Homo sapiens: one gene and its partner. The protein of the gene in region 1 purifies or fractionates together with the protein of each later gene. This does not show direct contact. Each region holds a gene or a part of one and is shown on either strand. Other genes may lie near its edges.

Region 1 (3,500 bases):
TTCCATCAATCTTCAGGGTTGGCACCTGCTTCATAGGATTCAGTGCCTGGAAGTCCTTAGAAAACTGTGGAGACAAGGCCCTGGTGGGCTGGGTGGCCTGGCCTGAGTTGGCCAGAGGAAAGCCAAGCAAGCAGGAGAACCCCAGGCCTGCCACCCACCCCCATCTCCCTTCCCTGGGAAGGCCCTAAATCCTAGGCCCAGGGTAATCCCTGGGGGATCCATGCAGTCTCCCAAAGCCCAGCTGCTGCTGAGCCATAGGCTTCATCCTAACAGCCTGGCTATGGGCTTTCCCTGCATCTCACACCGTGGCCACCAAGGCAGCTCCTACCCTAGTCAGCCATCCAGAGGGCCCAGTATGGGGTGGGGACCCACTAGCCACCCACCCTCCCAGGGTCAGGCACTGGAGAGCCCAGGCTAGGGTACACAGTCTGGACCTGGGCCCTTCCCAGGCCTCCTGCTACTGCACACCTTGCCACCTTGTCCCACAAGGGAGAGCCAGCAGCCTCCTGCAGTGATAGTCCACAAGACACAGGTTCACTTCTCTGGGGCAGAGCCTCCCCTTTTTCCCCTGCCTGGTGCCTGTTCAAGGCCTCCAATTCCCACATTGTGGTCTGGGCACAGCCTTCTTACCTGTTGGCCCCCATCCTTTATGAGATTGATGGGCACCGTCTCGTAGTCGATGCCTTTCAAGGCCAGAGCTAGGAGAGACCGCACATAGCGGAGTCAAAGAACAGCCTCTCGCCGTACTCTTAAAGGAAAGAGCCCTTCTAAGGTGACATTAAGGCCAAAGAGGGGGAGGCTTCTCTAACACTTCTGGGTGGTCAAGGCTCACCGTGGCACTATCCCCTTCTCTCAGCTTTCCTTGTCACCACGTGCTCCCTACCCCAGATGCACGATGCTCTGCCTCACTCACCCCTGAACTCTTAGAGACCTCAAGATCTGGACCCCCCCAATGGGGCCCTCATGCCCCCTGGATGGTGATAAAGGTGTATGCCCTGGCACTCTGTGGGCTCCTGGAGTTCAGCAAGGCTGTGTTGTGTTTAACTCTGCCCCCCCAGGGCCTTAAACAGTGGTGACCAGTGTCTTGGTTGAAGACATGCAATTACTCCCTCAAGAAGGCAACTAAGGGCCAAGGGAAGGAGCTCAGGTGGCCACACACAGCACACACAGACAGATGGCACTCTTGTTCTGTTGGAGAAGAATCTCTTCCAATCTATTCTCTCTGTTCTCAGGGCTGTTTACTAGAGATTCTAGACAGGCATCAGGCTCTTTGGTGGCCTCAGAGCATTTGCCGTGACTCCAGTCACCAGATTTCCTCTCCATCCCTTTTGATAATTTCCCCTGGCAAGCTGAGGGTAAAAAAAACTTGGGTGGGTCAACACTAGTGGAGAAGACTGCGTGCGTGTGCATGCATGTGTGTATTACACACACTTGGGCATTCAAGTATGGTGATGGCCAATCTCAGGGAAGGGCAAAGGAATGAGGGGAGGAGGACCAGACATGTCATGGTGTGGAGAGCCTGGGCAATACCAGGCTCCTCCTAGTGTTGGTCAGCTCCAGTCTGGGGAGTGACAGTGTTTGGGGCTGGAGGAGACACCTGGAGGAGGGAAGGCCAAAGCACACAGGCCGTACAGACAGCACCTATATTGCTCCGGCTTCTGGCTCAGCCAGGGCAGAGGTACTGGCGCCCAGGGATGGGTTCATCTTCTTGGAGGAAAGTTTCTCCTGGCACCCAGTGCTCTTGCTTACTGATCCCAGCAAATACCAAGTGACTATGGGATGGAGGAGGGGTCACGGAGGATGGCTTTGCCTCCACACTCTGGAGGCAAGCTTCTTGGGTTCAAATTTCATCACAGTCATTTGCTAACTGTGTGGCCCTGGGCAAGTAACTTAATGGGCCTCTGGAGCCAGACTACCTGGTTCAAATTCCAGTTCTGCCTCTTAGTAACTGAAAGATCTTGGGCAAGTTACTGAATGTTGCCTGTTTTTTGTGCCTCAGCTTCCTCCTCTATACAATGGGGACAGTAATAATAGTACCTCCCTCCTAGGGTTGCTGAGGTTTAAATGGAATCAGGCACACAAAAGCACTCAGCACAGAGCTTTTCCTCAGTACAGGCTGCTTTGGTTATGACCTTTGCCAAAGGCTGTGTTAAGCCAAGGGAGGGAAGGGTCAAACAAGGACTAGCCACAGGGCCCTTGTTTCTGCTTTTCTGAAGCCTCCGAGGCTGATGCTGGCCCGTTCTGTTTGCTTTGCCAGTTCAAATAAAATAAGAACTGAGAAGGGCCAGCTGTTCCCCTGCCAGTTACCAGGGGCATGTGGATTTTGTGACCCTGCTTTAAACATGGTTGCCAAGGGGCTTTGGAGAGCAGTGTTGGGAGAAGTGTCAGTCCCAAGGGAAAAAACAACCCCCTTCCTCCCACCCTCACCCTGTGTTTCCGGGGTGGAGATGCCATGCAGGGATGGGGGTTCTAGGAGCCGGGGGATGCTGGTTGCTGGGGGTGAGGTCCTCTCTGACAGAGCAACCCTTCCATCCCAGGCCAGCTTTGCACCCGGGCTTATCCGCCCCAGTCCACCCCACTCCAGCACTCATCCTGGAGGAGGCACATCTCTTACCAATTCGAACTCTCCATGAGCAGGAGCTTCGGAAATAGGAATAGAGGATGGGCTGAGGAGAGAGAGGATGAAGGCGCGTGTTAACCCATGCTGGGTGGGCTCCAGCTTGGGAGGAGTCAACCATTTCTTCCTGTCCTGCCAGGCCTCCTCTCTCAGGCCTGCATCTGTGCAAATCAGGGCAGACTCCAAGCTCTCTGAGAGGCTCATGAGGTCCCTTGGCTCCAAAATTATGCTGGTTTGAGCTCCTGAGGTCCAAGAGGCCCCCAAAGGGGCAGCTAGCCTGAGAGTGCCTTCCATACCTTGCCAGACTCTGTCATGGTATCGTGGTGACCCTCAGCCTCCCAGGAAATGTCCCCTCTGGCACAGCTTCTGAGCAGGGAAAGGAAACCTAAAGGGGTGGATTTCAGGAGCCAATGGGGAAGCTGGGCTACCCAGGCATTGGGGGAACTTTGACTCTGGTCAGAAAGGGCATTTCTGGCCAGGCACAGTGGCTCACGCCTGTAATCCCAGCACTTCGGGAGCCAAGGTGGGTGGATCATTTGAGGTGAGGAGTTTGAGACCAGCCTGGCCAACATGGTGAAACCCTGTCTCTACTGAAAATACAAAAAAAAATCAGCCAGGTGTGGTAGTGGGTGCCTGTAATCTCAGCTACTCAGGAGGTTGAGGTAAGAGAATAGCTTGAACCTGAGAGGTGGAGGTCACAGTGGGCCGAGATCGCACCACTGCACTCCAGAGCGAGACTGCGTCTCAAAAAAAAAAAAAAAAAAAAGGCATTTTTTTCCAACTCGCAGGAAGTTTCTTACGCTCCTGCTGGGGCCAGGTTTGGTGTCCCCCCAACAGAGCGTGGCCTGGTTTTGATGCAGTATTTTGAGTGGTGGAGCGGGCT
Region 2 (2,199 bases), on another chromosome or scaffold:
TTAAATTGCTGTGAGAACCCATATATGAAAAGAGAGGAGTTGAATTGTGTGTGCCTTTTATGTCTTGAGATTTATATGTGGAAAAGACGACATCTACTTCAAACTGTATTTTTTTCGTTTTTTTTTTTTTTTGGGGAAGGGGGGAGAACGGGGTCTTGCTCTGTCGCCCAGGCTGGAGTGCAGTGGCGCGATCTCAGCTGACTGCAACCTCCACCTCCCGGGTTCAAGGGATTCTGCCTCAGCCTCCCGAGTAGCTGAGACCACAGGTGCGTGCCACCACACCCGGCTAATTTTTTTGTATTTTTAGTAGAGACGGGGTTTAGTAGAGACGGATCACTCCTGACCACGTGATCCGCCCACCTCGGCCTCCCAAAGTGCTGGGATTACAGGCGTGAGCCACCACCCCCGGCCTGTATTTTCAGAGAGGAGAGCTTGGTGTTTTTGTGGTGCCAAGTGGTAAGATAATGTCTCTTTGAGGCTTCCTATGGACTGCCTTTATTTTAGTAAACTCAAGACACCAGTTAACCTCAACAGAGTTTTGGCCTTATTAGAATTTGTTGTGCATCTTATTGAAAGCCAGGTTTACATCACCTCACCCCATTATTCTTTTTAGTTAAATAAATTTACCATGCCAAGTAACCAGAATGGAGCAAATTGGTTGATCTTTAAGGCAGTAGGTTTGACTAGCTAGCTATCATTATTGTCACATCTAATGCTAGGCACCAGAAACCATTTGAGCCAGGAGTGTGAATGAATAATTCCAGAGACACTTTAGACATTTTTTAATGTTTTATATGAACATTTTACATTTGTGTGATTGCCTTAGATATTAAATTTTCCTAGTGCTGATAAAAACAGCAACATTCATAACTTATTTTATATATTGTTCCAAAGAAAAGAATTTGTTTTAATGGTTTCAAAATAACTGCACCTGAATTTGTTTATGTGCCTTAAGTTCTCTAGTGCTATTTCAACTTTTTTTTCAATCTAAATGAAGCTTACCTTAGATAAGGTTCATATTTGTTTCCTATAGAGTAAATAAACTTCCCCTTCTTAAATTGTGTAATAAGCACCAACGTGTGGTTGCTTGGCAGAATGAGAATGTTAAGGGAGATTGTTGGATGTTTGGAGTTTCATTATATTTTTTGTTTTTATTTTTTGATACCTAGGTGCTTTTTAAAATATTCAGACAAATATCTATCTTACATTGATTAAACCCGTGTAAATTCATTTGCAGTATCTACATCGAATGTCAAAAAAGTATACTTATTTTTGTTCCATACTTATGTACAATTTTTTCCCTCTTCAGGCTTTTTCATTTACCTTTTTGAAAAAGCACTTACTCTCCCCTTCCCTATCACCCCTCCCCCAAGGTTTCTTTATTTAAATTTTTATTGAGAGTTGTTGGAGCTCTAAGACAATACAAATTTAGAGTTGAACAAAAGTATAATCTGCTTTACAACTAGTATAGACCTAAGGTCATTTGCTTTCAATTAGAGGCTCCAGAGTCTTCATAGTGGAAAGAATGCTTTGTATTTAATTGTTCTTAGTTAAGTTGTAGCACGTGAATACTTACTTACATGTTTTGTTTAAATATACTTCTTGCATAGTTTAATTTTTTAAAAGTTGTATCTAATAAAATGTCTTTTAACCATTATTACTTGACTATATGGTTGTATTAAATTTTGTTTACGAAAAATTTGTTGTTCTGTTTTATTTTAAGTATATTTAAGGGGTTGTGCAAAAAAGAGATGGGGAAAATACTGGATATATTAATATATGTGTGTATTTACTGGTATGTCCATAAAATAACTGGAAGGATAAATAAGAAACTGAAAATATTAGTGTGTAAGAGGAAAGGAAATGGTGGCTGAAGGACAAGTAAAAATGAAACTTTACTGCATACGTATATGTGTGTAATTATAAATACATATAAAATCAATTTTTTAGTCTGAAACACACGAAAGTATTCCCTATTCAAAAAAAAAAATTTTTTTTTTCTTTTTTTGAGACGGAGTCTCACTCTGTCACCCAGGCTGGAGAGCAGTGGTGCAGTCTTGGCTTACTGCAACCTCTGCCTCCTGGGTTCAAGCGATTCTCGTGCTTCAGCCTCCTGAGTACCTGGGACTACAGGTGCATGCCACCACGCCCGGCTAATTTTTCTTTTTATATTTTTAGTAGAGACAGGGTTTCACCGTG

What was found.
Region 2: the proteins of GSTZ1 (region 1) and KLHL24 purify together in Homo sapiens (affinity purification with mass spectrometry; one large-scale study listed by BioGRID and IntAct). This does not show direct contact.

What each region holds. Positions count from the first base shown.
Region 1 is NC_000014.9:77,324,036-77,327,535, reverse strand, and holds part of GSTZ1 (maleylacetoacetate isomerase), read right to left. Parts: intron 2,998-3,500; exon of another isoform or gene 2,932-2,997; coding exon of another isoform or gene 2,914-2,931; intron 2,667-2,913; coding exon 2,615-2,666; intron 699-2,614; coding exon 631-698; intron 65-630; coding exon 1-64.
Region 2 is NC_000003.12:183,682,821-183,685,019, forward strand, and holds the end of KLHL24 (kelch-like protein 24), read left to right. Parts: 3' UTR 1-1,699; downstream 1,700-2,199. UniProt on the Homo sapiens protein: Necessary to maintain the balance between intermediate filament stability and degradation, a process that is essential for skin integrity.